4 linked regions of the Homo sapiens genome follow. The protein of the gene in region 4 binds, or shares a complex with, the protein of the main gene of each other region. Each region holds a gene or a part of one and is shown on either strand. Other genes may lie near its edges. The genes, in order: POLR1C, POLR1E, POLR2K and POLR1B. A codon is read from its position in the direction of its gene.

Evidence for each region.
Region 1: the proteins of POLR1B (region 4) and POLR1C are in contact, whole or in part, in a cryo-EM structure (PDB 7OBA), measured with the Homo sapiens proteins. Residues at the interface, in NP_061887.2 of Homo sapiens: Arg713 (codon at 845), Gln715 (codon at 839), Lys761, Ala762, Glu765, Arg766, Gly767, His770, Tyr774, Gly816, Val848, Arg872, Pro874, Glu900, Asp901, Phe904, Glu906, Gly908, Lys967, Gly970, Tyr971, Asn972, Phe973, Tyr974, Arg978, Tyr980, Ser981, Gly982, Ile983, Ser984; in NP_976035.1 of Homo sapiens: Ala70 (codon at 7,063), Asn74 (codon at 7,075), Arg77 (codon at 7,084), Arg78 (codon at 7,087), Leu81 (codon at 7,096), Ala82 (codon at 7,099), Gln102 (codon at 7,424), Asp103 (codon at 7,427), Glu104 (codon at 7,430), Ile105 (codon at 7,433), His108 (codon at 7,442), Leu112 (codon at 7,454), Lys220, Asp221, His222, Ala223, Thr230, Ser232, Tyr233, Arg234, Leu235, Asp281, Thr282, Phe283, Ser284, Glu286, Arg289, Arg301.
Region 2: the proteins of POLR1B (region 4) and POLR1E are in contact, whole or in part, in a cryo-EM structure (PDB 8A43), measured with the Homo sapiens proteins. Residues at the interface, in NP_061887.2 of Homo sapiens: Lys254, Ser258, Phe259, Ser260, Tyr262, Gln263, Gln266, Ser295, Thr296, Gln297, Ser338, Thr340, Glu341, Ala532, Cys535, Pro541, Ile542, Asp543, Gly544; in NP_071935.1 of Homo sapiens: Gln27 (codon at 2,243), Ser29 (codon at 2,237), Asn30 (codon at 2,234), Gly31 (codon at 2,231), Tyr69 (codon at 1,061), Thr76 (codon at 1,040), Leu79 (codon at 1,031), Lys80 (codon at 1,028), Cys81 (codon at 1,025), Leu84 (codon at 1,016), Cys85 (codon at 1,013), Met109, Gln110, Pro111, Leu112, Phe113.
Region 3: the proteins of POLR1B (region 4) and POLR2K are in contact, whole or in part, in a cryo-EM structure (PDB 7OBA), measured with the Homo sapiens proteins. Residues at the interface, in NP_061887.2 of Homo sapiens: Val87, Ile92, Cys93, Lys94, Glu95, Val98, Ala101, Glu102, Gly105, Arg106, His159, His160, Gln704 (codon at 872), Asp705 (codon at 869), Val793, Phe794, Gln805, Asp808, Asp809, Asp810, Leu812, Pro813, Phe814, Ile815, Gly816, Ala817, Lys818, Leu831, Val848, Asn851; in NP_005025.1 of Homo sapiens: Met15 (codon at 5,506), Tyr17 (codon at 5,512), Gly20 (codon at 5,521), Glu21 (codon at 5,524), Ser30 (codon at 5,958), Arg31 (codon at 5,961), Asp32 (codon at 5,964), Pro33 (codon at 5,967), Ile34 (codon at 5,970), Arg35 (codon at 5,973), Cys39 (codon at 5,985), Gly40 (codon at 5,988), Tyr41 (codon at 5,991), Arg42 (codon at 5,994), Ile43 (codon at 5,997), Met44 (codon at 6,000), Tyr45 (codon at 6,003), Lys46 (codon at 6,006), Lys47 (codon at 6,009), Arg48 (codon at 6,012), Arg51 (codon at 6,021), Val53 (codon at 7,404), Val54 (codon at 7,407), Phe55 (codon at 7,410).

What each region holds. Positions count from the first base shown.
Region 1 is NC_000006.12:43,512,337-43,520,088, forward strand, and holds the start of POLR1C (DNA-directed RNA polymerases I and III subunit RPAC1), read left to right. Parts: upstream 1-4,752; 5' UTR 4,753-4,773; coding exon 4,774-4,842; intron 4,843-4,969; coding exon 4,970-5,041; intron 5,042-6,996; coding exon 6,997-7,104; intron 7,105-7,369; coding exon 7,370-7,502; intron 7,503-7,729; coding exon 7,730-7,752. Other genes in the region: protein YIPF3, read right to left, coding at 104-227, 425-538, 733-864, 1,023-1,115, 1,252-1,297, 3,259-3,365, 3,553-3,759, 4,391-4,471. UniProt on the Homo sapiens protein: DNA-dependent RNA polymerase catalyzes the transcription of DNA into RNA using the four ribonucleoside triphosphates as substrates.
Region 2 is NC_000009.12:37,481,159-37,488,947, reverse strand, and holds the start of POLR1E (DNA-directed RNA polymerase I subunit RPA49), read right to left. Parts: upstream 3,001-7,789; 5' UTR 2,901-3,000; coding exon 2,825-2,900; intron 2,716-2,824; exon of another isoform or gene 2,508-2,715; coding exon of another isoform or gene 2,246-2,507; coding exon 2,142-2,245; intron 1,086-2,141; coding exon 1,009-1,085; intron 1-1,008. UniProt on the Homo sapiens protein: Component of RNA polymerase I (Pol I), a DNA-dependent RNA polymerase which synthesizes ribosomal RNA precursors using the four ribonucleoside triphosphates as substrates.
Region 3 is NC_000008.11:100,145,893-100,153,647, forward strand, and holds the start of POLR2K (DNA-directed RNA polymerases I, II, and III subunit RPABC4), read left to right. Parts: upstream 1-4,743; 5' UTR 4,744-4,817; intron 4,818-5,454; 5' UTR 5,455-5,463; coding exon 5,464-5,524; intron 5,525-5,931; coding exon 5,932-6,024; intron 6,025-7,401; coding exon 7,402-7,424; 3' UTR 7,425-7,755. UniProt on the Homo sapiens protein: DNA-dependent RNA polymerase catalyzes the transcription of DNA into RNA using the four ribonucleoside triphosphates as substrates.
Region 4 is NC_000002.12:112,566,455-112,573,468, reverse strand, and holds part of POLR1B (DNA-directed RNA polymerase I subunit RPA2), read right to left. Parts: intron 6,712-7,014; coding exon of another isoform or gene 6,574-6,711; intron 5,503-6,573; coding exon 5,332-5,502; intron 4,724-5,331; coding exon 4,567-4,723; intron 908-4,566; coding exon 711-907; intron 1-710. UniProt on the Homo sapiens protein: Catalytic core component of RNA polymerase I (Pol I), a DNA-dependent RNA polymerase which synthesizes ribosomal RNA precursors using the four ribonucleoside triphosphates as substrates.

The sequences.
Region 1 (7,752 bases), on a different chromosome or scaffold from region 4:
AGCGAGGATCAGATGGGCCCAGCCCACCAGCCATCATATCTAGCTTCTTGCTCTAGGCAGCTGCTTTCCCATTCTCCCCCACCCAGACCTTCCTGCCACTTACCCTCTACCACTTTGTGGTAGGCAAAATGCAGATAGAGCAGGAAGAGCATGTGTAGGGCAGCCAGGGTGCCACAGAGGAGCAGCCGCTGTGTGGGGCCCACGGTCCGAGACACCAACACTGCTACCTAGGACCATGAGAATACAGCTCAAAGGGCCTGGCTCCAAAGTGAGGAGTGGGGACAAGACACCCCCACCCAGGGCAGAACCATCTTTGGGCTCTTCCCTCCCATTTAGGGCTCTTTGTGAGATGGACAGCTCCAGGCTGTCTTCCCCAACTCCCTGGGAGGACAGCCCACCCCTGGAAGCCTCTTGCCCAGCTTACCATGCGCAGTGTGGACAGTCCACCCACCAACAGCCAGAAGAGGTAGAAGAGGGCGTGGAGGTGGATATTATAGGTGATGAACAGGACAATGCAATGCCCAAAGAGGCCATAGCCCTGGGAAGGAGGATGGTGGAGAGGAAAATCATTCAGGTTGGGCTGCTTTCTGGCCCCTCATGGGGACCCTGGGAAACACATGGTCCATTGGCCTACTCCTCCCATTCCAGGCTTTGGGGCCCCAGGACAGATGCCGACCAAGGCCTGGCTACTCTTTTTAACATCACTCTTGCCCACCACACCTGGCTCCTTACCAGCAGTGCCAACATCTGCAGCATGGTGATCTGGGCGTTGCACAGGTAGGCAAGGAAGTAAATGAAGGATGAGACTCCCAGCCAGTAGCCGAAGCAGGTGCCAATGGCTGTGCCCATCAGGGTGCCCTCCCGCTGTGGGGTGAAGGCTCTATTTAGTCCTAGGAGGCCTCTGATCTCAGCCTCACCTAGGGCCTTCCGCAGGGGCTGTTCCTGTCTCACTCCACCATTGTATCCTCAGGCAGCTTTCAACCTAGTGCAGCCACCCCCCCAAAGTTGTCTGTCCTGCTTACGATAATAGTGTCAGACGTCTTCATCCCATGGAGTAGGATAGCAACCAGAGTGAAGACCAGCATGAGAGGTCCATAGAGTTCACCTGCAATTTTCTGTCAATATACCAATTCATTCAGGCTGGAGGGTACAACAGCTCATCTGTTTATGGCTTCCCAGGATTTGCCTGGTGGTCCCACCCTCTGCCCTGGTGCTTCCCCCGGCTCTCCAGACATGCCACCCTCTATTCACCTGGGGGAAGTTGACCATCTTGATAGGGATCATGGACTCCAGGAGCCTGGGAGAGGAGAGGAGAGATTAAAGCAAAGGCAGCACAAGGCCATGAGGTTCTGGAGGGCAAGGCCTGAATTTTATTCATCTCTAACTCCAGGGAATGGGGCCTGGCCTAGAAGACATGTTGGATGACACGGTAGAACAGGGTAGTAAAGACAGATAGGGAATGAGGAAATCATTTCCTTGCCCCTAAAGTTACTTCCAGGAAGGACAACCCTCTGAAACTTAGCTGACTGAAACAGCAGCTATATGGAGAACTCAGCCCTACTGGGCCTTGAAGGAGGGCCCGACCATGTATCCGTCTGCCCCCTCCCCTTGAAAAGACAGGCAGGCTGGGCGCGGTGGCTCACGCCTGTAATCCCAGCACTTTGGGAGGCCGAGGCAGGCAGATCACAAGGTCAGGAGTTTGAGGCCAGCCTGGCCAATATGGTGAAACCCTGTCTCTACGAAAAATACAAAAAATTAGCTGGGCATGGTGGCGGGCGCCTGTAGTCCCAGCTACTCAGGAGGCTGAGGCAGGAGAATTGCCTGAACCCGGGAAGCGGAGGTTGCAGTGAACCGAGATCGCGCCACTGCACTCCAGCCTGGGTGACAGAGTGCGACTCCATCTCAAAACAAAACAAAACAAAGACATGACAAGACAGGCAGACCTCAGCAGAGAGTACCCAGAATTCAGGGTTATAATGAGGAAGCCCTGGGAAAAGTCTAGCCGGCTAGATGGAAAGTTTAGAATGAAAGGTGTTACTGAGGGAATAGTAAAAACGCCTCCTCTTCCTGCTTATCTGTGCCTCCAGGCACTTTCGAGTATTTTCTTGAAAAATATATGTGAAGTGGTATGAAAATTTAGTCACTTCCCTCTTCTCTCAAGTGGCTAGCTCCTAATCATACCTGGGATTTTAGCTAGGTTTTACTTCCTCTGGGAAACTTGTCCTGTCCCACCCACCAACCTGCTTTGGCTCACATATCCCTCCTGTGTGCCCCATCATAGAATGAGTACTGTACTGTAACTGCACTCAAGAGCAAGGCTCCCATCTATCTTCACCACTGAACCAGATACGATTAGTTTAGCGTCTGGCACAGAGCAAATGCTTAATAAATACCTGCTGAGTGGTCCTGGGTATTTGATTAGCATTGATTAAAGGATGAACAAAAAAACCAAGCCAGGATTAAATCTAGTTCTTGAAAAGTCACTCAAAAACTATGCCCTGATATTTTGATTCTGAGACTGTTCTGGTGCTGGGAATAAAAAGATAAACAAGACAGAGCCTGCTTTTGAGATGCTGTTGGTCTCTGGAAGGAAGATTCCAGGAATAAGAAAGGATAGCAGTGGTGAAGTGCTGTCTATTAGAGGCAAGCGCAGAGTTCTTTTTTTTTTTTTTTTGAGATGGAGTCTCACTTTGTTGCTCAGGCTGAAGTGCAGTGGCACGATCTCGGCTCACTGCAAGCTCCGCCTCCGCCTCCCAGGTTCATGCCATTCTCCTGCCTCAGCCTCCCGAGTAGCTGGGACTACGGGCACCCGCCTGTCTAATTTTTTTTGCATTTTTAGTAGAGACAGGGTTTCACCGTGTTAGCCAGGATGGTCTCGATCTCCTGACCTTGTGATCCGCCCGCCTCGGCCTCCCAAAGTGCTGGGATTCCAGGCGTGAGCCACCATGCCCGGCTGGCAAGCACAGAGTTCTATAGGAACACCAGGAGAGAACAAACTGGGGATGGGATTGAGGAATGTGGAACAGAGGAAGTGACATCTGAGGTAGGTTTTGAGGGAAGATGAGTAGTCAGTTAGATGGAAAAGAAGAGGAAGATGGTGTGCTATTATTACTTGTTTCAGTGACAGGTGCAGTGATGAGAGGTGATGGGGTCATGAAGACGGGGAGCCCATCAGAGCCCAGGGCTTGAAATCTGACTGTAGTGTGCATGAAGGTCTAGGTGTTAGGAGGGAAGCTTCTTCAAGAGAAGGCTCCTCACCTGCTTCGCACCTGAGCAGGCTCCACATCAAAGTAGGGTCTGAGGATGTCGATGTTGGCGTACAAGCTGAAGGCCCTGGAGGCTTGTCTTTTCCCAGCCTGCCACATCTGAAGTAAGGAAGATGGGCATAGGTATTGTGGTACTGTTGGTTCTAGATCCTGTTGCCTATTTTCCGTTTGATTTCTACATGGTTCTAACTGGACAACCTGGGGCGAACATCACCAACACCAATTCCAGAACACGGGACATACCTAGGTCTACTTTTCTACCTGCAGAGGATTCAATCTTGCTTACCTGATCTGCCACCTGCCGGCTCAGCTGTCCCTTAAAGCCCTTCATGCCCAGGAACTCTCCATCCTCCTCTTCAGCAGCAGCTGCATCAGCTGCATCAGCGTCTACTTCTTCCTCGCGCAGGCGCTGATGCAGCTCACCCATATCCTCGAAGCTAGAGCCTGAGGTATCATCCATGTTCTCCATGTCAATCACAGCTGAGCCTCCGCCCTGTGAAGACAATGGCTCCTAGAGTGCAGGACTTTTCTGTTCCATCCATTAAGTCCTCTGCTCATCCCAGGGTTTAGGGCTTTGTTCTTCCACTGCTGAGGATACGGCTTGGAATCACTACAGATCATGCCACTCCATTCCCCCTCATATGCTCTCAGAACGCCTGGTTTCTAGCTTTGGCTATCTTTTCTAGCCTGGGAAACCTACTAGTCTTCCATTCATGTCTTTCTCCTATGTTACCTATCAAAGACTAAAAGGCTGAAAAAGTGCCCATTTCCTTCTTTCCTAAGCCCCAAACAAAACTATACACATAGTATGTTTTCAGCGAATGCCAGTGAATCCCACCCAACCCCACTCCATGCCTTACCCCGACCAACCTCCTAACTTGTTCCAAGAATACCTTCTTCCTAATGCCTCGGGCGGGCCCTGAAACCCGAGATCCTCAGGCTGGAGTAGTAGTCTGGCCCTTTCAGGTCAATGTTAATCCCACTGACTTTAGTGTGCACGAAGACCCAAAGAAGAGAGTTTTGTAAATGGAGCGGACTTCCAGGCCCAGAGGGGGAATCCCCAAGACACTTCTGGACATCGCCGGCCCTCCGGCTGCTGGCAGCTGGTGCCTTGGGGCCATTACCTGGATGTTTTCTTCGAACCCTCCCCATTCCGGGCCAGCTCCATTTCGGGCGCCGCCCGCCGGCGCCGCTGTAGTTGCCATGTCCCTTGAGGGCTCCCGTCGCTGAAACCCGCGCTAGCCCCGCGCGCGGAGTGGGCAAGATGTGGGCCTCCGGAAGGTAGACGTCCAGGGTCGAGGAGAGGTGGGATCGGCCGGAACACAAAAAGGAGAAGCCCGGATGTTTGGACAAAAGCAACTTCCGGAAGCTGGGGACGTGGACGGGGGCGGGGAAAAATCTCGCGATATTTAAGATTCCAGGAGGCGGTGCGTTGCCACGGAGACGGAGCAGGGCTACTAGGACGCACGCGCGAGATAGAACCTCTAGTCTCGTGGAGAGATTGAAGATGGCGGCTTCTCAGGCGGTGGAGGAAATGCGGAGCCGCGTGGTTCTGGGGGAGTTTGGGGTTCGCAATGTAAGCCTTGTGGCCTTGAGCTCGGGCGGGAGGAATGAGAGCGGAACAGGGATGGGTCTTGGGATTGGCGTGGGGATAGCTGTGGGCTCACTGTCCCTTCGTGGACAAATTCGTCCCTTTGCTCTAGGTCCATACTACTGACTTTCCCGGTAACTATTCCGGTTATGATGATGCCTGGGACCAGGACCGCTTCGAGAAGGTAAGTGGGGCCGGAGTTGTCTGGGGAGGGTTATGAAGGCCAGACCTTGTGGTCTGAGCAGCCTGTGTCTGTCTCAGAAGCTGCTCTTGGGGGTCGCTCCGTTTGTAAGTTTGTTGAGCAATGTGCTAGACGCTCCGTTTACAGGCCAAATTAGACACGGTTTCTACCCAGTTCTGCAAAGATGTTCAGTCTTGTTGAGGAATGGTGTGTATAAACAGTGAATCTAGTGTAATATGGTGAAGGTGGTTGATAGCGATGAAGACGGCAGGGTTGGGGTGGGGAGCATTACGCTGAGACCAGGAAGAGGGGCGGAGAGGTACTTAACATTTCAAGAGGAGGGTACATCTCAATTGAGCCTTGAATGGTAAGTAAAAAAGAACAGGAGTTAAATTATGAAGGGTTTGTTTCAAGTCAGTGAAGTTCAGGATATACAGGTTTTGTGTGTATTTAGTCTTTTGTATTGTTTCACTTAGCTTAAAATAAGGGTTAAAATTGCATTTAAATAGATTACTGAATGTTACCGTTTAGGCAACTGACCTTTGCGTGCAGCTTATAAACATGATCTGTAAATCAGTGCTTGGGAAAATTTTACTTTTTTAACCTGTTGATACAAGGAATAAAGTATGAACAATGAAAAAGGTTAATGCTTGAAAAAAAATTATGGCTTGTGTGAAGTGTGCTCCGGGCATGTCCAAGTAGTTCTGGCATGAGTGGTAGGCAAGGTTGAAGTGTGTCTTGGGCACTGTTGATGATAGGGAGATTGAATAGTTCTTAAGCAGACATGATGAGATTTGCAACCTTGGTGGCTGGGAGGGAATGAGTTTGAGGAGGATCATATGGAGCAGGCAGATCTGTTGTAAGGGAAGCTGAGGTTGAAGACATGAACTAAGACTGATGGTAGAAATAGAGCAAAGGTAGAATAGAAGGTAAATTTATGATTGCTTTGGTAAAGGCTGTGGGGGTAGCATAAAATGACTTTTTGGCTTGGGAACTGCTTTGATGCATTGTGGTATCATTTACTGAGAGGAGAAATGGGTCTGGGGAACGGGAATGATGATGCATTGTTTTCTGCATGTGGAGAAATCTAGCAGGCTAGAAGACTGCATGCTTGAAATGAGATCAGAAGTGAGATAACATTTTGGGAGTTGTCAGAACAGATAGTTGCTAAAACTGTTAGTACAGTTAAGGTGACCTGGGAGAGAGACAAGAACCTGGCAAATTTAGAGATGGGTGGAAGTCGATCATCAGAGAAGGAAGAAGAGTGGAGCTCAGAGCTCAGAAACCAGGGGAATAGTTCAAAAAAGGAGGAGATTTTTTTCTTTGCTTTTCATGAGGCACTCTTATGTCCCAGGCTGGAGTGCAGTGGCGCGATCTTGGCTCACTGCAACCTCCGCCTCCCGGGTTCAAGCAGTTCTGCCTCAGCCTCCCGAGTAGCTGGGACTACAGTCATGCGCCACTATGCCCAGCTAATTTTTTGTATTTTTGGTAGAGACGGGGTTTCACCATGCTGGCCAGGCTGGTCTCAAACTCCTGACCTTGTGATCTGCCCGTCTCAGCCTCCCAGAGTGCTGGGATTACAGGTGTGAGTGACTGTGCCGGGCCAGGAGGGGGTTTTTTAATCAATGCCAAGCATAACAGAAGTCTAGTAAGAGGACTGAGTAGTGTCAACAAAACTAAGCACTATGGTAGTTTCTGTTCTTCAGTAGAATAGCTTCTGTGGATGGTTTGGTTGGAAGCCATATTGCATAGGGTTTTAATGAATGGACGACAAAAATGGAGACTTTTCATGAAACTTAAAACACTGGGCGAGATAGAATATTTAATAAGAGACATTTGGGCAAAGGGAGGTTTTTGGATGAGAGGATAATACTTGAGGGAATTATCTAAGGGGGAGGTATGAAGAGATATTACACAGAGAGCAGATTTCACTTAAATGTTTTTTCCTGTCCCTCTAGAATTTCCGTGTGGATGTAGTACACATGGATGAAAACTCACTGGAGTTTGACATGGTGGGAATTGACGCAGCCATTGCCAATGCTTTTCGACGAATTCTGCTAGCTGAGGTATTGGCAGGCATGGTGACAAGGCTGGAGTTGCTTTGGGAACTGCACTGACACCTCACTTGGAGAATTAAGTGTCTCAAGCTGTCCTTCCCTCCTTAATTTTCCTGGAATTTTGCTGAGCATTTTACCTTCTCATTCTTTGTAAATTTCTCATTAAACATTCTAGGAAGAGAGATAGCTCCCTACCTCTGGAGGTTGGGGTTACGGGGATAGGTAGGGGGTCTGTTGGGTTTTTGCAGATAAGTGGTTATTTTTCCTTGGGCAGGTGCCAACTATGGCTGTGGAGAAGGTCCTGGTGTACAATAATACATCCATTGTTCAGGATGAGATTCTTGCTCACCGTCTGGGGCTCATTCCCATTCATGCTGATCCCCGTCTTTTTGAGTATCGGAACCAAGGTGAGAAAATGAAATTTTGGGAGAAGTGGACTATCTGGGTTCAAATCCTGGTTGACTGTGATGTTGGGTAAGTTACTTATCTTTGTACATCAGTGTCTTTCATCTGTGAGAACACTTGCCTTGTCTCCCAAGTTTGCCATAATTAAATGGGAAACACGTAAAGCATTCAGCATAGTGCTGGCACTCAGACGTTTACTAGTTCTTAGGAGCTCCCTCCATTTGTGCAGGAGATGAAGAAGGCACAGAGATA
Region 2 (7,789 bases), on a different chromosome or scaffold from region 4:
GTTCAAAAGTTCTCAACCTTCTCTCTGCCCACACACCTGAGGAATGCATCATCTACTCATGGGTAACAATAATCTCCCCTACCCCTACCCCACAGCAATTCTCTGCATAGAGAGGGAATAGGAAAGGATAGGATGGGATGGGAGGATATGAGGTGGTTCTGGGAAAAAAAAAAAAGCTACTAGGTGATTCTGATAGTTGATCACATTTGGGCTCACTGCGGTAGTGTAATGGAAAACTCTTTTGGGGTGTACGAACCTAGAATTACACTACAATTTATGGCACAACAGTTTTATGGAGGCAAAATCAAGTAAACGGGGAGGAGACCAATTGGAACTAGGGCATCTCTGAGAGGGGAGAGTGCAGGGTTAATAGTTCTCAGCACCTATACACCCATCTGACCTCTCCTCTATTGGAGTATGGTCCACCGGGGCTCAGAAAGGGCCTAGTTTGTAGTTCATTGTTGGGTACCATCACAGGGCCCTGTCTGCATCATGCCAGCCCCCGAGAGTGATACAGTTCAGGCTGGACAATCTTCACTGTACAGAGGGGGAGGCTGGGGGTCAGTGATGCGCAGAGTTACCCAGCCACTCAGTCAATCAGCAGCACAGCTGGATGGGAATCCCAGGCTCCTCTTTCCCAGTCCAGAGCCTTCAACACTACCAAGTTCTTTACCTGTCGTTAGTTCCCAGGTAAACTTCACGCAAGCTTTGACCTACTAGTCACACATTCCAAATTAATGGAGAGACCTGCCTTTTGGAATAAGACAGCTATAAATAAACAAGATTACAAATGAATGAGGTTTTTAGGAAATTCAAGTTATCTTTCCTTTCCAGCAACGTCTACACGTGCAGGGAAGGGCTCTGGGTCTAATAGGAACACAGGGATCACCTAGTAAACCTCTCTAGATGGCTCCTGCTACCCTTAAAACAGACAGGAAACAGCAGTGCCAGTGCTGCCACCACTCCCAACCCCATCACCCTTCCCACTGTCCCTTCCCCTGCCATTACCTGCACAAAGTGTTGCATTTGAGGGCTCCAGTCCCAAAATTGTTTCCCACATAGGAGAGCCTATCTGTTTCAGCTGCCTAAAATGCAGAGAGGGGAAACTCCATTTACAACCAATGTTGAAAGGTATTAAGCATCATTTCTCTTTTCTACATTTGCTGAGGCTTTTGAATCCAGACTCACAATGGATTAGAACTAGTTCATCTCTGGCAGATGATCCAGCCCCACTATCTCTAAGGGAATATGGGGTGTCCCTGCAGGGGAAGCAAGACGACTTCTGGAAGAGAAGCCTCAGATGGTGCTAGCTTCTAAATGGTATGAAAAGCTCTTGGGGGAATTCTGCCACAAGACTTGAGAGAGAGGCCCTGGGCTTCTGGCACTTAAAGGTATGCAACAAAGTGATTCTGTAAGCAATCTCTCTTTGGCCTGTTCTTTGTATACTCTCAGGACCATGGCTGATTCACTCCCCAATCATAAGCAAGCTTTCCTGCTTCTCTGCATTTGTCCTCACTATCCTTTTCACTCGAAACACCAAACGTTGACTGCCAAACCCTCATTCCAGCCTTCAAGGCTCAGCTCCAACATGACCTCACCAAGGAAGGCATTCTGGCAGAGACCTCTCCTCCCACTGAGCTCACTCTGCCCTGTACTCTTCCCCACGTGGCCTCAGAGCTTTGTGTAAAAGTGTCCCTCACAGCCAGTTCTCATCTCTCTAGAGCAGAGGTTCTCAATCCAGGGAAATCCACTCTGGTGCTACTGGCATCTAATGAGTAGAGACTAGGGATGCTGCCCCCACAGCAAAGAATTATTGGCCCAAAAAGTCAATAGTCCTGAGGTTGAGAAACCCTGCTCTAGAGTATGAACTCTGAGTGGGGCTAGGCCTGATTTGGCTGTTTTCCTAGAAGCTTGCAGCACAGGGATGCAGAGGGGCAGGTTCCATAAATGCTTGTTGAAAGAACAAATGAATGAAAGATGGAGCCTGTCCCCACATCCCAGGCTGCTGGGCATCAGAGTTCTTCAAAGCTCCATTTGCTACTACTCCCCTTTTTCTCCCCTCACTCCCTCCCACATCCACCCACTCCCAGGGGCCTTCTGAGCCCTGCAGAGTGGAGACAGCTGGCAACTGCTTCACTTACCAGGATCCGTTGATTCCTCTTCCTGGGGTTGGTGGAATCTTTGTTCTCATACAAGGTAAAGCGCATGTTGCCTGGACTCTGTAGCTTCCCGTTGGAGAACTGGACTGTAAGAGTGCAGCCCAAGAATGAGATGAGAGCAGAAGGCCACACAATGTACCACACAATGTACGGTGGGACTAGACTGTCACTGGGAGGGAGTGTCAGAATGGGGATGGCAAGGAAGCTCGGGTCCTGACCCAAAGGGAACTGGAGGAGATCCGGGGCCAGCTGAGAAGAGGAGGTAGGGAGGTGGGAGAACCCTGGGGAGGGGCTGTGACAGGAGGGAATGTCTCGCGGAAGGAGGCTGACAGCAGAGGCCTGGTACATACCTAAAGTGACAGAAGGAACCCCTGCCCAGTGAAGAGAGGGAAATGGGGGAGGCGGGAGACCTGGTGGGTGAGGGGGTCAGCAGGGTCCTGGACACAGCTCTGGGGAGCGGGTGAGTGGGATGTCCCAATCTGGCTGGGAGGTAGTGACAGAAAGACGGACAGGGGAGCCCTGACAGAGCCCAGGGGAGTGGTGGAGACTAGAGGGGTCCCGGCCCCGCTGGGGAGAAGCCCAACGGAGGGCGAGAGGACAGCTGAGGTACCGAGACGGAAGGGGAGAGGGTTAGAGGAGCACTGCTCCAGCTCCGCAGTCTTTACCCAGTACAGCTCTCTGGCTCCCGTCGGGCGCCCCACAATACTGCCACCTCGCACTCGGCAACACCTCCGCCGCCATCTCGCCTGTCTGTCCGCCAAGCACAGGAGTTAAGACAGCAGCAGCCACAAGCGCACTTTTAAACACGCGGGAGCCCAGGCCGCGCTGCGGGCCGGAAAAGGCGTGGCCCCGCCGGGCACCGCCCACAGCGCGCGAGCCGCGTGTCCCCGCCCCCCGCGTAGAGAGGCGTGGTCTCCGCCCACAAGGTGCCACACACCCGCTTGACTGGCCGAGGCGCAGCACCTGATTGGCTCAGCGCTCGCGTGCACTCTGGGTTTTGTAGGTCCAGAGCCCGAGGCGCCAAAGGCTTCAGCCTAAGCTTGCTATGAGCCTTCTTCCGGCTCAGCACCTTCTAAAGAGAGTGTCGTCTCTCTCTCCTACCGTGACAAACTCATCTTCCCAAGACCTGAAGGACCAAGTTCAAATTTAGAATTCTCTGACAGGAACTGCTTGAGCCCCAACTAAATGTGGCCGCTGGCGAATAGCCGCCCCTCTCTAGGGCTTCCCACCCACCCACGTGGACATCCAGCTCTAGGTACAAACTTTGTCCACAGTCCGACAAACAGCTCCCCGCCATGGGCTGTGGCGTGCACACCTGTGGCCCAATCAACACTGAGGTGATGGAACAGAAGCCCAGCCAACCCCGGAGCCTTTGGGCAGGAGATTCTGGACTGGAATAGAAGAGGGAGTCCGAGCTGATGGACATGTCCCTTTTTCACTGCGGATTCAACCCTTCTTCTGCACGGGGAGTTTTCAGAGCAGAAAGAAGGCGAAAGCAGGGCCTTTAAGCATGGACGCTGGCCGAGGCCCCCTTTGCCCAAAGATGCGTACTATTGAAGGGCAAGAACTCCGGTTGACTCCCCTCTGTCTTCCAAATCACCTTCTTTCAAGACTCTTTTCCTTCCACACACCCTCAACACCCGCCTCCAACACCCAGGATCCTAGGAATAACCCTAAAGCCTGCATGCCCCTTTGCCTGAGCACTTGTCACGCTTTTCTAATTACCCAATCTCAAACGTAAAGAAACACTGCAAGAAATGTTTTTGCCCTGAACCATTTAGAGTAAGTTGTCAACCTGATACCCTTTCAACCCTGAAGACTATAGTATTTCCTACAGACATTCCCTAAATAACAACACAGCCATCAGAATCAGCAAATTGCCGGGCGCAGTGGTTCACGCCTGCAATCCCAGCACTTTGGGAGGGAGAGGCAGTTCTATCCCTTGATTCCAGGAGTTTGAGACCAGGCTGGGCAACATAACAAGACCCTGTCTCTACAAAAAATAATATTAGCCATGTGTGGTGGCGCACGCGTGTCGTCCCAGCTACTCGGGAGGCTGAGGTGGGAGGATTGCTTGAGCCTAGGAGGCAGAGGCTGCAGTGAGCTGTGATGGTGCCACTGCACTCTAGCCTGGGCGACAAAAAAAAAAAAAAAAATTAAACAGAAAAGAATCAGGAAATTAGCACTGGTACATTACCACCATGTAATCCTCACATCCCATTTAAGTTCACCCATTGTCCCAACGTTTGTTGTTAGTTTGTTTTTTGAGACAGGGTCTCACTCTGTCACCCAGGCTGGAGTGCAGTGTTGCAACCAGGGCTCACTGCAGCCTTGACCTTCCAGGCTCAAGTGATCCTCTCACCACAACCTGGGAATACAAGTGTGTGCCACCACACTCAGTTTTGTTTTGTTTTTTCTTAATTAAAAAAATTTTTTGTAGAGACTAGGTCTCACTGTGTTGCCAGGGCTGGTCTCAGACTCCTGGGCTCAAGTGATCCTCCCACCTTGGCCTCCCAAAGTTCTGGGATTACAGGCGTGAGCCATTGCAGCTGGCCCAATCATGTTTTTATAGCAAAAATGTCCTGTCAAGAATCATGTGTTGCATTTAGCTCTCATAGCCTTTCCTCCCTTAGAAGGCTACCTTGCTTGACCCCACCTCATGATTTTGGATTGAATTGTTCAGGAAAGGAAAAGGGAAGAAGAAGAAAGAAGAAAGAAGGATGAAGAAAGAAGAGCTTAATTGTGTGATTGTCTCACCCATTGATTGTTTCCTCACTAAACTTACTTGGGGTTCACAATAAACACTTTGGAGGTTAATAAACAAATTTATGTTTGTTTTGATCACTGCTTTATCTCCAAATCCTGAACATACTAGACCCTCAATAAATATGGAATGAATTAATGAATGACAGGGCAAAGAATGGGCCTGAATTATCACTAATCTTGGAAGCCTAGCACAGGGACTGGAACTCAAAGATGTTTGGTAATATTGGTTGAAATCAACTAGCATAGGGTTTACACATAACAGACTCTATAAATGTTTTTTGGTTGAATGAAAATATGAACAGTTAAATCAAAGTTAAAGGTGACCAAGATAACAGTGGCTACAATGAGCCAAGTATAGTTCTTAAGAGAAGTATCTTGTGATATAGGAACACATTATATGGCCTTGTTACTCATGATATAGGAACACATTGTATGGCCTTGTTACTCAAAGTGTGGTCCATGGAAACAGCAGCCTCGACAGCACCTGGGAACTTGTTAGAAATATAGGATCTCCAACCCTATCAAATCTTCTGCAACAGGATCTGCAGGTGATTCATGTGCACTTGAAGTTTAGGAATCACTGTTATACCGGACTGATTCCCCTTTAAGGCACATATTTGCCAGTCAGACAGATTATGTGCAAGTCCCCTGGATTGACTGTTTTGTAGCGAGGACAAAGAGTGAAGAGTACAACACACCCACTGAAGCAAAAACTCCTAGAATTACCACAGGCAAGAATTCCAAATGACGGAGATTCTATCCGTGGAAGCAAAGTGTTGATGGTCAGGCAGCTGGGAAGGGGATCATAGTATACCCCTGTGTTGTTTAATTATTTAACAGTTATTCAAAAGACACACCTATACACACCATGTACATATACATACGTGCCTGTGTAACTGGGATGGGGCAGGATGGAGGTGGGATGGGGCAGGATGGAGGGAGCCCTACATAGGCATTAACCAAAATGCAAAAACCTATAGTGGCCTCTTTTATTTTTTTATTTTATTTAATTATTTATTTATTTTTTTGAGGCGGAGTCTCACTCTTGTCGCCCAGGCTGGAGTGCAGTGGTGTGATCTGGGCTCACTGCAACCTCCGCCTCCTGGGTCCAAGCAGTTCTCCTGCCTCAGCCTCCTGAGTAGCCAGGATTACAGGTGCCCACCACCACGCCCGGCTAATTTTTGTAGTTTTGTTAGAGACAGGGTTTCACCATGTTGGCCAGGCTGGTCTCGAACCCCTGACCTCAAGTGATCCACCTGCCTCAGCCTCCCTAGGTGTTGGGATTACAGGCGTGAGCCACCACACCTGGCCAGGTGGCCTCTTTTATATTCAAATCGTGGATAATCACAGGCAAAATTTACCACATAATTTTTTTTGGAAATTTAGTTTGGAAATAATTCAGAGACACCTGGAGTTCTCTTTTAGTATCATTTTTCAGAGAAGGAAAATGGTTTTCCAGAGGGCAAAAGGAGAGGGAGAAAAGCAAAGTCCTCCTTTCCTGGGGTAATATCTCCATCTGCTGGTGTTTCAGGATAACACTAACAAAGACCTGAAAAGGCGAGTCAGATTCCATACTGTTTGCAGTGACTCGCCCTGTACTCTGGGGAATGGCTTCTTTTTTTTTTTTTTTTTTTTTTTTTGGAGACAGAGTCTCGCTCTGTCACCCAGGCTGGAGTGTAGTGGCGCGATCTCGGCTAACTGCAACCTCTGCCTCCCGGATTCAAGCAATTCTCCTGCCTCAGCCTCCTGAGTAGCTGGGATTACAGGCGTGCATCACCATGCCCGGCTAATTTTTGTATTTTTAGTAGAGATGGGGCTTCACCATGTTGGTCGGGCTGCTCTTGAACTCCTGACCTCGTGATCCCCTGCCTCAGCCTCCCAAAGTGTTGGTATTACAGGCGTGAGCCACCGCGCCCGGCCGAGAATAGCTTCTTCTGTCTCACCTCTTCTCTTCCTTTCTTGTCCCTCTGCTTCTCTTTTTCCTCCCTTCCTTTCTCCCTCTGTGTTTGTCTCACTCTCTTGTTCTCTCCTCTGGTCATTCCCATTCCTTTCCTTCATATCCCTGATGCAGACCCTCTTTGCATACCTACACACATGGATGACTCACTCCTTAAAAGGTGGACTTCTCACCTTGAACAGGTTTTTTCCTTACATGGAGCTGACTCTACCTTCTGTAGCTTCTCCCTATAGCTCCAGTTCTTCATTCCGGGGTCATGCAGAACACAATCAGCTCTTCTTGCCTGTGCCCTTCAAAAGCCTGGAGACGTCTATCATGCTTTCCATGTATCTGTTCCTCTCCTCTCCCAGCCAAAATTATCCCTCACATACCAAAGTTTCTAGGTCCCTCCTCTTCCTGGTCACCTCTGCTAGACATATGCCAGTATATCTGGATCCTTCAGGGTCCCATACAGATCAGTACTTCAGCACTGGGCTGGGTAGCACAGAACAAGGAGAATTCATCACATCCCCTGTGCATTTGTTGTAAACATCTATACTGCTCAGTTAACTTACTGGGGTTAAGAATAAACAAAAGTTCTTAGCTTTGCTTCTGCTAAGTTATATCATCCTTGTAACTTTTTTGAAAAACAAAAATTCAGAGCTTTGTATTAAGGGCTGTTAAATTTACTCAAGTTAGATTCAGCCTGTTTATATATTTAAATTTTTCTGAATATGTATTAGATAAAAAACTTATCAAATAAATACATATTTGATGTTGAAAATACAGAAACATATTAATAATAAAATTACAGTAATCTATGATATCTTCCCCACAAAAAGGCAAAAATTATTCAATTTGGTTGTATTTCTTTCTAGTTTTTTTCTCTGTGCATATGCACATTTATATAATTGATATAATACTGTAT
Region 3 (7,755 bases), on a different chromosome or scaffold from region 4:
GCAGCGCTCCCGCCCGGCCGCCCGCAGGCCTGGGTCCTCGCTTGAGCGGGAGGAGCGCCCCCTCTCTCGCTCACCCCTGCACCCGTCCCGAGGCGGGTCAGAAAGGCTCTGCTTCTCCCCATTCCCACTTTGGGAAGCATTACCGTATTTAGGAATGCTAACGTGGCCTACAGTGGGATGCCATTAGAAATCATGTATGAGAATGTTCCCTTGGAAATGATTCTCCAAACTGTCAAGTGCAAAAAGCAAGTTACAAACTGACCCCTTTTAGGTTAAAAATATGGATATACACAGGATGAGGTCTGAAAGGTATGAATAACTTGGATACGGTAAATTTGTACAGGATTATGTTTGCTTTTTAGTTCTTTTTATCTGTGTTTTCTTCTCATGTTTCAACAATGAATATATACAGATTTTGTGATAAAAAAGCTGAGCCGGGCCTGGTGGCTCACATCTGTAATCCCAGCACAGAGGTGGGAGGATCACTTGAGCCAAGGAATTTGAGACCAGCCTGGGCAACATAGTGAGACCCCCATCTCAAAAAAAAGATTTTTAAAAAATCTATTCATAAAAACCAGAGTGAAATGTGTTCATTGTTTACAAACATCCATTTTTGGGCATCATGAACTCCCAAGTACCCTCAAAGCCAAATAAATTTTTTAAACCCTAATTTTTTCATTCAATAAATATTTACTGGGCGTCTATTATATGCCAGGGACACTCCTGCTGCTCTTGGCAGCTTCTTCCTAGTCTCCTTTTTCTGGCTTCTTTTCCTTGGCCTACTCCCTAAATGAGAGGTCCTACCTCAGCATTTTTATTAGTTTATCATCCCATGCTTATGTAATTCTTATTCAGAACTTCAACCATCACTTTTAAGCCAATAACAGGCACTACCACCACTCTTCTCTGACTGGACATTTCTCCAACTGGATGTCCCTCAGTCATCCAAAACCAAACTCACTAAAATTATTATGAGACAGGGTCTCGCTCTGTCACGCACGCTGGAGTGCCGTGGTGCAATCTTGGCTCACTGCAACCTCCACCTCCCAGGTTCAAACGATTCTCCTGCCTCAGCCTCCCGAGTAGCTGGGATGACAGGCACCCGCCACCACGCCTAGCTAATTTTTGTATTTTCAGTAGAGACGGAGTTTTGCCAGGTTGGCCAGGCTGGTCTCGAACTCCTGACCTCAGGTGATCCACCTGCCTCAGCCTCCCAAAGTGCTGAGATTACAGGCATGAGCCACTGTGCCCGTCCACTAACAGTTATTAAATTCCAACTATGTGCCAATTACTGTGCTAGGTACTGGGAATACAGAGCTGACACAGCCACAGTTACTGCTGTTAAGGAGCTCATTGGTATAGAGCAAGTGCTGTAACAGAGGAACAGTAGCAGCACAAAGGAAAGAAGAACCAGCTAACTCTACTGGAGAACAGAGTGCATGAGATAGATTTTGATGTACAAGTGGCAATTTAAAAGGCAGACAGCAGGAAATTCCAAACTTAAAATGTATAAGGGCAGGAAAATTTCAAACTCAAAACAAAATGTGCAAGAGCAGTTGGGCACATGGAGAAGCTGCAAATAATTTGTTATAGGCAGAAACTAAGAGTTGTTAGAGGAAAGGATTAGAGAAAATTCCTGAGAAGTGAAGAAGCTAAGTCTTGGGAAGTTCTGGTTGCACCTTCAGAGTTTGAAGAGCATTTTAGAAAGTCCACTCTGGTGGCAGAATGGAGGACAGAATGAAGAGAGGCAAGGGTGGCTGCTAGGAGACCAGTAGGAAGCTACTGCATTTCTCCAGAAGGCAGTGGGGGGTGGAGCAGAACCAAGATGTGACATGTTCAGTTGGCAGAATCAACTGCATGGGGCAAGGAGTGAGGGAATGAAGAGTATAGGCTTGGGAGAAAATAAGATGCATTTAGTGTGAGGTTGTTAAGTTTGAGGTACCTGTAGGACTGTAAAGAATTAATGAATTACACATTCTTCAAGACAGCACCTCTCTGAAGCCTACCCCCACACTCCCTGGTAGAGTGAATAGTACCCTCTCTAGCTCTTCAAACAAATCTCTATTACAGCCATTTTACCCTTTCCTGCCCCACATTTGCAATTCTCCTGCAGAATTCTACTGAATTTTCTCTGTGTAGTTTACTACCTTCTAAAATCCCATATTATCTACTCATTTTTGTTTAATGTCTGCTCCCCATCTCCATCCCAATGTAAACAGGGCAGGGAATTTTGCCAATGGTTAAGTAGAATCCACATAACCCCAAAACCATTTAAACATTGCCCTTTTCTTTTTTCTCCAGTTAATTTATTTTTCTTGAGATATTTTATTATGTCTGAGGAGTGAAAGACTATATCATATCTCCTTTATATTGTTCAAGGAAGAATCATTGTCACCTCTCCCCACCTAAAAACGGGCAAAAAGACACCTAGTTATATGTAGTTTGCCTGAGCTTTACTTACATACTCCAGATTGAAGCCACTGAGCTGTAATTTCATATTCTTTACAGTCTTTTGCCTTTTTGCTTCCCTTTTTTTTGAGACAGAGTCTCACTTTGTCACCCAAGCTGAAGTGAAGTGGGGCAATTTCAGCTCACTGCAACCTTCGCCTCCCGGGTTCAAGCGATTCTTGCACCTCAGCCTTCCAAGTAGCTGAGATTACAGGTGCATGCCACCATGTCTGGCTAATTTTTTGTATTTTTAGTAGAGACGGGGTTTCATCATGTTAGCCAGGATGGTCTTGAACTCCTGACCTCAAGCAATCTGCCCGCCTCAGCCTCCCAAAATGCTGGGATTACAGGCGTGAGCCACGGTGCCCAGCCCTTTGCTTTCCTTTCTTGCATTGGGTGTCATCCCATCACTAATTTCAGAACTCTAAAACCCACCTGCTTGCCACAAAATCTGATGCTTCTTTTTGGGACCATCCAATAAAACGTAATGGGAGATTTCCCAAATTACCATGATATTCAAGCTATCTGGATATATTTAAGTGAATATAATCAAGGAAAAAGGAAAGACAGAGATTCAGGGAAAAAATAGCAACTTGCATCTCCATAACCTTCTTAATAAAGAGTTAAAAGCATTGTTTTCCAGGATGGCAAGACAACTACCCCCATTAAAACAGAGCAATGCAATGATGTCTGGCATGTAGTACATGCTCAGAAAAAGTTAATGCTATCATTGATAATAGTGTAGCTTACACTGACCAAACTCCCAAGTGATCCTAGAACTACCAGTCTCTGTTGATAGGAAAGAGCGTGTTGGATTGGGAACTAGCACCAACATGAATTCTTGTTGAAATTCTGGATCTTCTTGCTATGACTTGTCATTACTTTGCCCTTTTGTAGGGCCCCAGGACCCATTTGTATTCTACATATGTTGATCCATTCTGATCTCCATAAATTGTTCTGCACGAGAATTATCTTGATATTTCAACTGGAGAGTTAATATACAAGAGAGCTTGTAAATATGAAAGTTTGACTTTTGGGATCACTCTGTCATCTTTCGCTTAGGATAACAATGGTTCCATCTAATAGTTCTTACAGGGAAGCCTATTGTGCCTCTTGTATTAGATCACCTCTTTGGTTAAGAGGAGAGGTACTTTGTAACAGGGCTAATGGTTAAAATATTTATGCTCTGTTAGCCTGTCTGTGAAGAAAGAAGCCAGGAACTGCTGCGTTTTCCTGAAGGGTTTTTAAATGGCATCTTCCTGGAAAGATCAACTTAAATCTCTCAAGCTGGTCTGGGGAGATGCAACAGAAGGAGTTTGAACTTCTGGAAGTGAAAGGTGAAGCTCAAAGTTCTCAGATTTCTGGATGGAGGGCCCGAAAGGAGTATAACCTGCTTAATAAAATATCAGACATAGTGCGTGTTGGGAGAAAGAACGCCTACTTCTTTCACTAACTTTAAAATAGTTATTAACAATTAAGTTATTTTTAAATTTTTTAAAATAGCTTCATTTTCTTCACCCTACTAAGTAAAATATCTTCTGGAAAAAAAGGAAACAAATGTAAACGTTCTGAACCCAACTGATCCATCATACTGAAATTCTGATACTTGAAAGAACGCACCTCCACTGAGCAGGGCGTTTTGTTCTTCTATGGTGGAATACATAGAACGGAGGGCGGGTGAGTAGACAGCGAAAGCTACCAAAATCTCTTAGATTTAAGAGGGAGTTGTTCATGTAGCTACCGTCACACTAACCTTTGCTTTAAAACAAGTAAACGGATTGGGCGAGGGATGTGACAGTAGCCTATCAGAGAAGGGGCCAGAAAGCAAAAACAAAATCAAGAGAAAGGTAGGAGGCAGCTGCCCCACTGCCCCAGTACAGATATCAAACAATTTTTAAAAACAATCTGGAAAAGTGTTTTTCTACGTGAAAATCATTGGTGTAGTCGATTCTTCTATGTTCGTCCGAGTAACGGCTATCCTAGTACTTCTCGGACACTGTCATCTCGGTTTTTCTTCTAACCCTCTACCCTTCTGGAAAAGTGTTACTTTGTACCACTACATTAGTCAGAAACACACACCGCCTTGTACTTGCATAACTGTTAAAATGCTCTGCTTTCCTGCAAAATTAAAATAGCTGGGGACCAGGCACTTAAACCCGTAGAATCTAATAGACAGAAAGCCCCTGCTTTACCGCCTTTGCGCCATCCGGGTTGTCTGGCCACGCCTGGGGCGGAAGGGGCGGGGAGTAAGAGAGAGAGAAAGAGAGACAGCACTGTGCGTCATGTACCAGCGCCGGAAGTTGGTCTCGACACCTGGACTAGCCGGGTTGTATTTGGAAACGCGGAGTGAGTTTTTCCGTGCTGTGTAGGTAAGCGAATTGGCGGGTTGGGGTTTGTGGTGGATATTTGGGCCAAAACTGGAAAGACACTTGGGGTAAAAAGGTCCGGTATGGGGGTAGAGTTGAGAGTGGCTGGGGATACGGTCCATGCTATCGCTCTTTTCCCTATTTTCTTTTAGTTTAGATGTTTAGCCAGTAGGAGTTATTTCATTGTTCTTCCCTCGGTGAGCCTGTTCCCCTGTTGAGGGATATAATTTTTTTTGGCTAACTTCTGCTAGAGTTTGGGAAAATAGAACTTGTGTTAAACGAGAACGCGAGCTTTACAGTCAGATCTGTATCCCTTTGACTTTTAGTAGCTGAGTGATCCTGCGGAAATTAACATGTCTAAGTATCGGTTGCGTCCTCTGTAAAACAAGAGTGATGTCTCCTAGGATTGTTATGAAGATTATAATGGCCTAACACGTATGAAGTAGTTATTATGTCCAGTTTGGGGTAAACGCTCAATACTTGTGTGTATGCGTTTCGTCCTTGAGACCTAACCCATAGGATTTGGGGAAAGGAACAGATTAGGAATTGGATCTTTGTAGCTTTTCCTGAGAAAAATGGGCCCGGATGGACTTGTGAGAAGCCCTTTTGAGATATTCAGTATTTGAGTCTGTGATTTCAGGGGCTAACAATGGACACCCAGAAGGACGTTCAACCTCCAAAGCAGCAACCAATGATATATATCTGTGGAGGTAAGAGTAGCACTTACCTAAAGTAAGAATATTTTATTTAAGTTTTTTTGAAATTGTTACATTTATTCTTTGCTTAAATGAGTTACTGGTCTTCAGAGTTATAAAGTAGAACACTTTAGCAACCATAAAAAAAATCGTTGAGGTCAGTAGACCTGGGTTCGTCCTTGGTCTTCTGTTTACTAACAGAAAAAAACAAAGCTCGTTGAGATTTCATTCTCTCTCCTGGAAATATGCATGGCCTACAACCTTTTTCTTTCCTATTTAATATATTTAATAAAAGCAGCAGACCCTTGAGATTGAGTATATTTTAGTGTTTTGGATTGCCTTAGGTAAATAATACATTTAAGATAATTTGTCTGTAATATTTTCCTCTTAGGCATTGAGTAAATTTTTTTTTTTAATTCTAGAGTGTCACACAGAAAATGAAATAAAATCTAGGGATCCAATCAGATGCAGAGAATGTGGATACAGAATAATGTACAAGAAAAGGACTAAAAGATGTATCCTTTTAACGATGCTTTCTAAATATGAGTTAGGAGGAAATGAATAATGCTGGGGTTGATAAAGATTAATTTCTGGTTAAAATGATAACTTTCTGGATTACAGTACTTAAAAAACAAACATGATTAGCATTTTCATGGACCAATGCATAGGCTCTAAATAATCTAAATAATGCTAGTTGATTTTGGTTCTCATAAATTTATTTTTTAGGGATTCTGTGCAGTCAAGCTTGAGGATAGGGATACATTCTGAGAATTGTGTCCTTAAGCAATTTCATCATTCCTACAGAAACCTAGACCGTATATCCTACTATACATACACATCTAGGCTATATGGTATAGCTTATTGCTGCTAGGCTACACACCTGTACAGCATGCTATTGTACTGAATAGACAATTGTAACACAATGTTTTTGTATATCTGAACATAGAAAAGGTACAGCAAAAATAGAGTATAATCTTATGCGACCACTGTTTATATGTGCTCCATCTTTGACCAAAACGTCATTATGGGTGCATGACTACATTTATATAAGTATTCATTCTTGAGCTTCAGTTTATGGACAAGCTAAAGTTCACGAGGAGAAATACAAATATTGTGTATACTACCTAATGGAAAAAGTTGGGCATACAAATTGTTCAAATACTGAGAGTAGGCCCAGCATGGTTGCTCACACCTATAATCCCAGCACTTTGGGAGGCTGCAGGAGTTCAAGACCAGCCTGGGCAACATAGTGTGACCCCCATGTGGAAAAATAAAATACAGAGTAAATTGTTATGATACAACTAACACACATTGTAAATCGACGGATTATCCGCTTTAACATTACTTTAGTGTTTTTTTTTGTTTGTTTTTTGTTTTTTTTTGAGACGGAGTCTCGCTCTGTCACCCAGGCTGGTGTGCAGTGACGCAATCTCGGCTCACATTGCAAGCTCTGCCTTCCGGGTTCATGGCATTCTCCTGCCTCAGCCTCCTGAGTAGCTGGGACTACAGGCACCCGCCACCATGCCCGGCTAATTTTTTTTATTTTTTAGTAAAGATGGGGTTTCACCATGTTAGCCAGGATGGTCTCGATCTCCTGACCTCGTGATCCGCCCACCTCAGCCTCCCAAAGTACTGGGATTACAGGCGTGAGCCACTGCGCCTGGCCTGCTTTAGTGTTTTTTGATACATTTTATGGAAAAGGTGGTAATAAAAATTGAAAGTGTTTTTAGTTTATTTAAAAACCAGTTGTCATAGTAAATAGTGAATTCCATTCTTTTTTGCATTTTAAGTTAAATAACAAACCAGCTTATTGCAAAGAGAAAGTGACTTTGAAACCTTCAGTCTTAATAATGTTTAAGTACCGTTTTTGTCCTTAACTCAAATTAATACAGTGGTCGTTTTTGATGCTCGATGAATGCTGGGAATTCAGAGGAATGTCTTCACTTATACTTGGATTTGCTCTCTTCCCATTTCTGATTGTTGTATAGCTTTCGATTTTGCTTACAGTAGTTCCCCCTTATCTTCGGGAGATACATTCCAAGGCCCCCAGTGAACTCCTGAAACCTCAAACAGTACCAAACCTTTATACACTGTTTTTTCCATATATATATACCTATGATAAAGTATAATGTATAAATTAAGCATAGCAAGAGATTAATAATAATGTAATAGAACAATGATAACATACTATAATAAAAGTTATGTGAATGTGGTTGGTCTCTCTTGCTTTCAAAATATCTTCTTGT
Region 4 (7,014 bases):
GGCATCACATTTTAACTTTCCTCACATTTTCCAAATCACTGATACTAACTACAAAAACCCAGACATGGCTGGGCACGGTGGCTCACGCCTGTAATTCCAGCACTTTGGGAGGCCAAGGCAGGTGGATCACTTGAGGTCAGGAGTTCGAGACCAGCCTGGCCAACATGGTGAAACCCCATCTCTACTAAAAACACGAAAATTAGCCAGGCATGGTGATGGGTGCCTGTAGTCCCAGCTATTCGAGAGGCTGAGGCAGGAGAACTGCTTGAACCCAGAAGGTGGAGGTTGCAGTGAGCCAAGATCGTGCCACTGCACTCCAGCCTGGGCAACAGAGCGAGACTCCGTCTCAAAAATAAAAAACAAAAAACAAACAAACAAAAAACAAGAAAAACAAAAACCCAGGCACACAGAAATAGCTTAAAATCTAATCATACTTAAATATAAAAGGTAGATAGATCCAAAACCAAACTTCAAAATTTACTCATAATATGCACTCAAATATGCAAGACATACGTGTATCTGAATATTTAGTGGATATTCCTCAAGGCTTGCCCACTTTCAACTTAGACTAAGAACTAATCATTTAATAGAACATCACGTGCCAAATACTAGGTACTTGGGTACACAAAAATATTCCTTCAGTGATTTCACAGTAAACAAACAAGTTAAAAAATAAAAAGATTGGAACAACATTTCCTGGTAAAACTTACCATGGCATCTTCCATATCATAGCCAGTGTAAGAAATCACAGCAACGATGGCATTGGTCCCAATTGGATAGTTATCCATGTCATAATAATCATACATGGAGGGTCTCACCAAGGGACTCTGAGGAGTCTGAAGACGATACAGTTTGTTATCCGATCGGTCTTGATAAGTGAGAAGTGGAAAGCCCATAGTTTGCTTACCTACATGGAGAAAAAACATCTTAGCATTTTCTGCTGCTTTCATCTTGATTATAGGTGTGATACGCAACACTGGAAACAACTAAATATCCATCAGAGGAAAATGAACAAATAAATAGTCATGGTAGTTATGCTTACTTTAGACTAATACATAAGCTGTGAAAATGAAGTAAACCTAAATGTATCAACGTGACCAGACCAGGAAAACCATGCTGAGTGGGAGAAAGTGCAGACTGACATTTAATATGATACGATTTATGTGTATTTGCAACACACCCCAAACAATTCTATACTTAGTTTATGGATACATGTATGATGTAATAAAAGCTTTAGAAGGGGACAGAAAGGAAGTACGCAAATTACAGGCTATCACTACTCGGGGAAGAAAAGGGGATAGGAATTATTACGTAATTAGATTACTTTCTTACAGCGGAATATGTATTTAATTCTAAGTAGTGGAGCATGGGGTGAGATTCCTCTGTGTACTACCTCACAGTACAGAGAATCATTTCACGACAAAATGATTTTAAAATATAAATACATACAAGTGAAATTTTTAAAAAAATTATAGACTTAGAGCTTCCAGTAATAAAGGGCTACTCTTACTAGACCACCCTCAACACATAAGTATGAGACGCAGACCCCCAACTACACATACAGCACTGGAGAGTAACCAAAAGCTGTCAGAAGCTGAGAAGAATTTTTACTTGGACAAAAGGAACACACTGGGTGAATTTCCAGGTTTTTAAGTATTTATGTATTTATTTTTGCCTTATGGCCCAGTGTGGCAGCTACAACTTAGATAGAAACCCACAATCTTACTGGCTTGAAGAACCAAGAAATAGAGTTCTGAGCATGACAACAATTGGGAAGGGGGAACATTTCAGAAATGAGAGAACCACAAAGGGAGACCCTTAAATTCAGCATATAAATTGGGTCCGAATCTTTGGTGGACTCCTGAACTATGCATGCATGGGACAGATCACAGCAGCCCACCTAAGGCTGAAGAATGTACTTCAACTGCCACGTTCACCAAGTTAAGTACCAGTGAAAACTAAAAACCAATCCTCTTCCCCTGGAGAATTTTTGGTGACATGCACTGAACCAGGTGATGGACTGTGTATTAAGAAGGAAAGACATAAAATGAAAAAAATTAAAATGTAATTGAAGGCCAAACACCACACTAAAAACAAACAAAACCAATCCTCTTCAGAGGACCCTAACAGGATCCAGGGTTTAAAACATACTCCTCGCAATGTTCATAATACAATCCGATATTACTGGGCATACAAAGAAATGGTGAAACTTGACTTATACTCAAAGAGACTGATACTAAGATGACCCAGACATTGGAATCTGCAGATAATGATTTTACAACACCCATCATATAAAACTATGTTCAAAATATAAAGGAAAACATGCCCACAATGAATGAAGATAAGAAATCTTAGAGAAGAAAGAAACTATAAAAAAAGAAACAAGTCAGGCCAGGCGCAATGGCTCATGCCTGTAATCCCAGCACTTTGGGAGGCTGAGGCAGGCAGATCATTTGAGGTCAGGAGTTTGAGACCAGCCTGGCCAACATGATAAAACCCTGCCTCTACTAAAAATACAAAAAATTAGCTGGGCATGGTGGCACATGCCTGTAATCTCAGCTACTCAGGAGGTAGAGGCAGGAAAATTGCTTGAACTGGGGAGGCAGAGGTTGCAGTGAGCCAAGATCGTGCCACTGCACTCCAGCCTGGGTGACAGAGCGATACCCTGTCTCAAAAAAAAAAAAAAGAAAAAAAAAAGAAACAAGTAGAAGTGCTGGACTTGAAAAATACAGGCATGCACTGCATAACAATGTTTTAGTCAATGCAGGATGGCATATATACTATGGTGATCCCATATTTTTACTGTACCTTTTCTATGTTTAGCTACACAAATCCTTGCCATTGTCTTACAACTGTAGACAGTACACAGTACAGTTACATGCCACCCAGGTTTGTAGCCTAGGAGCAACAGGCTATACCATATACTAGGTGTGTAGTAGTCTCTGCCATCTAGGTTTGTGTAAGTTCACTCTATGATGTTCACACTACGACAAAATCACATATGACTCACTTCTTCGAAGGTATCCCTGTCGTTAAGGGCACATGACTGTAAGCAAAAATTCAGTAGAAGACAGAATAAAAAGTGACTGTGATAATAGGTCAATAAAAATAATCCAATCTGGGCCAGGTGCAGTGGCTCACACCTGTAACCCCAGCATTTTGGGAGGCTGAGGCAGGCAGATCACTTCAGGTCAGGAGTTTGAGACCAGCCAGGCCAACATGGTGAAACCGTATCTCTACTAAAACACAAAAATTAGCTGGGCATGGTGGTGTGTGCCTGTAATCCCAGCTCCTCAGGAGGCTGAGGCAGGAGAATTTATTGAACATGGGAGGCAGAGGTTGCAGTGAGCCGAGATTGTACCACTGCACTCCAGTCTGGGCAACAAAGTGAGACTCCATCTCGGGAAAAAAAAAAAAAGATCCAATCTGAAGAAAATAAAGAAAAAAGAGAACAGAAACTCAATGTCTTATGGAACAATATCAAAAGGTTTAAATATATGAATAACTGATAGAAGAGGAGGAAAGAGAGAAAAGGATAGGAGCAATGTTTTTAAAAATAATGACAGAAGAGTTTAGCAATTTAATTAAACTGAAAAAAAACAAAATTTGAGGCCGGGCGCAGTGGCTCACGCCTGTAATACAGCACTTTGGGAGGCCAAAGTGGGCAGGTCACCTGAGGTCAGGAGTTCGAGACCAGCCTTGCCAACATGGTGAAACCCCGTCTCTACTAAAAATACAAAAATTAGCTGGGTGTGGTGGTGAGTCCCTGTAGACCCAGCTACTTGGAAGGCTGAAGCAGGAGAATCACTTGAACCCAGGAGACAGAGGTTGCAGTAAGCCGAGATCACACCACTGCACTCCAGCCTAGGCGACAGAGCGAGACTCTGTCTCAAAAAAAAAAAAAAAGAAACACACTATATTCAGAAGACTGCTGCCTTCTAACTAGAAATGACAGAGACTAAGAAGAGACAGTGTAACAACAACTTTTAAGTGTTGGAAGAAAAATAACTGTCAACTCAGAATTGTATATCCAGTGAAAGATTCCTTCAAGTGAAGCAAAATAAAGACATTTTCAGATAAATGAAAACAAAGAGAATTTGTGGCCAGCAACCTGCACTATAAAAAAATGCTAAAGGAAGATTATCAGGCTGAAGGAAAATTGTATACAATGAAAACTTGAATCTTGCAGCAGGAATGAAGAGGACTGGAAGTGATAAATATGCGGGTGACTATAATTGCTTGTATTCTTCAAAAAATCAAATAATAAGACCTCAGGCACACCCAAATCTATGGACATTCTATACCTTTTTCTTCAAAAATGTCAATGTCAAAGACAAAGAATGTTTAAAGATCTGTCATAAATTACAGGAAACTAAATAGACATGCCAACTAAATACAATGAGTGATCCTGGGCTGGTTGCTTGTGGCACAGAAAAAAGAAAAACTTGCCATAAACTGTATTTTTGGAACAAATGGTCAGCATATGTAAATAAGGACAATAAAAGAGTGTGCTAGTATCAAGTTTACTTTCCTGATTGTGACTGTAACATCATCCCTCTTCCTTACCCATCTGGCATTGGTACATGTTCCGTGGACTCTGGTTGTGATCAGAGAAAGGGATGAAGTTGGCAATCACACTCAGCAGGCTGTGTGGAAAGAGTTCCTGGTGTGTGGTAACTCCAGCAAAAACTTCATCCTCAAAGATAGCGACATTCATGAAGATCTGGAAGAGCAGATGTCCAAGGCACAAAATAACTGCAACTGGTTACACATTTACTCTTACCATTTCTCAGAGTTCAGTACTCAAAGACTCAAGAGAAAACCATCCCCACCCAGCATCATGAGTGCTGAAGGGATCAACTGGGAAGCACAGGGAAGCGACCAGTTAGAAATACCACTTGCTTTACGTATCTCACTCTAAAACTACCCCAGACCAATTGTGAAGGGGAATAGGAAGAAAAATTTTTAAGTAGCACAAAGCCTATAATTTTGCAACTGTAAATATGTAGGCAAAGACTGAGTGTGAATCTAATGGAATGTTTTCACTTCACGGCTGAGGCAGAGCCAGGTACAAAGGAGTTCTGGGAGCTAGATAAGATGGGAGGCAGGTAATGTGACCACCAGCCCTCTCTCAGGTTCTGTGGAGTGAGATCAGACATGGAAATTGCTCTGTGCTGATCATAGAGGAGGTGGAAAGTCTGACTTTCTTTCAAATGTCCAACTGTTGTTGTAACATTAACAACCCTTTTAAAAAAGGAAGAGTTAAGTCTCTGAAAGTTGTATACTATACAAACAAGCACATACACTCATCCATCACACATATGTATTTACCTGTTCCATAGTTCCAATTAGCTCTTCTTTGCCCAATGCTAAGTTCTGCACAGGCCGTACCAGTCTACAAGGAGTGGTAAAAAGGAACAATCCTGGGTACAGACTTGGTTTTCCTGTCATGGGTATAAGGACCACTTCCATCCAGGGAGGAATTCTTTTCTCTCTCAACACCTGTTTTTAACAAAAACAGAGTTTAACAAACCTGTCCCAAGGCCATGGCTGTCGCTGCCAGTCTTATGCCCCATGGAATACCACTCATCCACACTCAGCCATGGTAAAAGCCCTACTTCCTTGGGTGCTCACCCCAGCTAGTAGGCAAATCACTAACTACTGAGGCTAAGGATAAAGCACACCATGAATGCACGTGTCGATACACTAAAGGAAATTCTGTCCTCTGTGATCTAAAATACAGTAGATTACTGGTTTTATTTGTAAATTTAATAAACCAAAAACTCATGGGTGGGCCGGGGGTGGCTTATACCTGTAATCCCAGCACTTTAGGAGGCCAAAGTGGGTGGATCACTTGAGCCCAGAGGTTCAAGACCAGCCTGGGCAACATGATGAAACCCCGTCTCTACAAAAATTAAAAAATTACCTGAGTGTGGTGGTACGTGCCTGTAGTCCCAGCTAATCGGGAGGCTGAGGTGGGAGGATCACTTGAGCCCAGGAGGTTGAGGCTGCAGTGAGCCATGATCATGCCACTGCACTCCAGCCTGGGTGACAGAGTGACCCTGTCTCAAAAACAAAACAAAAAAACTCCAACAAACTCCTGGGTGAAAGGAGAAATAAAAACCTAAATTACAGAAACCTGAAAACAACAACAACAACAACAACAACAACAAACCCATGTGTCAGAACTCATGGGGATTCACAGCTAGATGCATTATCATTAAAAATGAGAGAATGTTTGGTGGAGGGGGACACGGGGAGATGTTGGTCAAAGAGTATAAAGCTTCAGTTATGCAACAAAATTAAGTTTCTGGAGATCTCATGTACAGCATGTGACTATAGTTAAGAATACTATATTGCATGCTTGAAATTTACTAAGAGAGCAGATCTTAAGTGTCCTCATCCTCCGATGCTCCACAATGCTAACCAAAAAAAAGAGAATGAAAATAAATTCTCTATAAAAAAGATAAAATCTGAGACTAATGAGGCAGGTAGCTCATTTGAGGTCAGGAGTTCGAGACCAGCCGGGGCAACATGGAGAAACCCCATCTCTACTAAAAATATAAAAATTACCCAGGCATGGTGGTGTGCACCTGTAATCCCAGCTACTTGGGAGACCGAGGCAGGAGAATTGCTTGAACATGGGAGGCGGAGGCTGCAGTGAGCCAAGATCACACCACTGCACTGCAGCCTGGGCGACAGAGCGAGACTCTGCCTCAAAAAAAAAAAAAAAGAGGAATGATTGTTTAATGGTTACAGAGTTTCAATTTGTGATGATGAGAAAGTTCTGAAGATGGTGATGACTCCACAACATGAATGTACTTAAAACCCTCAACTGTACACTAGATCAAATCTCATACACTTTCTGAGCATCAAAATAAGTAGTAACAGAATATTCACAAAATTAAACAAGCATCTATAAATCTACGCTAACATAAATAAATGAACAACTAATAGAAAAGAAAGCCCTCCCTTACAGAATAGCAACTAATAAACATAGAAAAAATGCTGGTG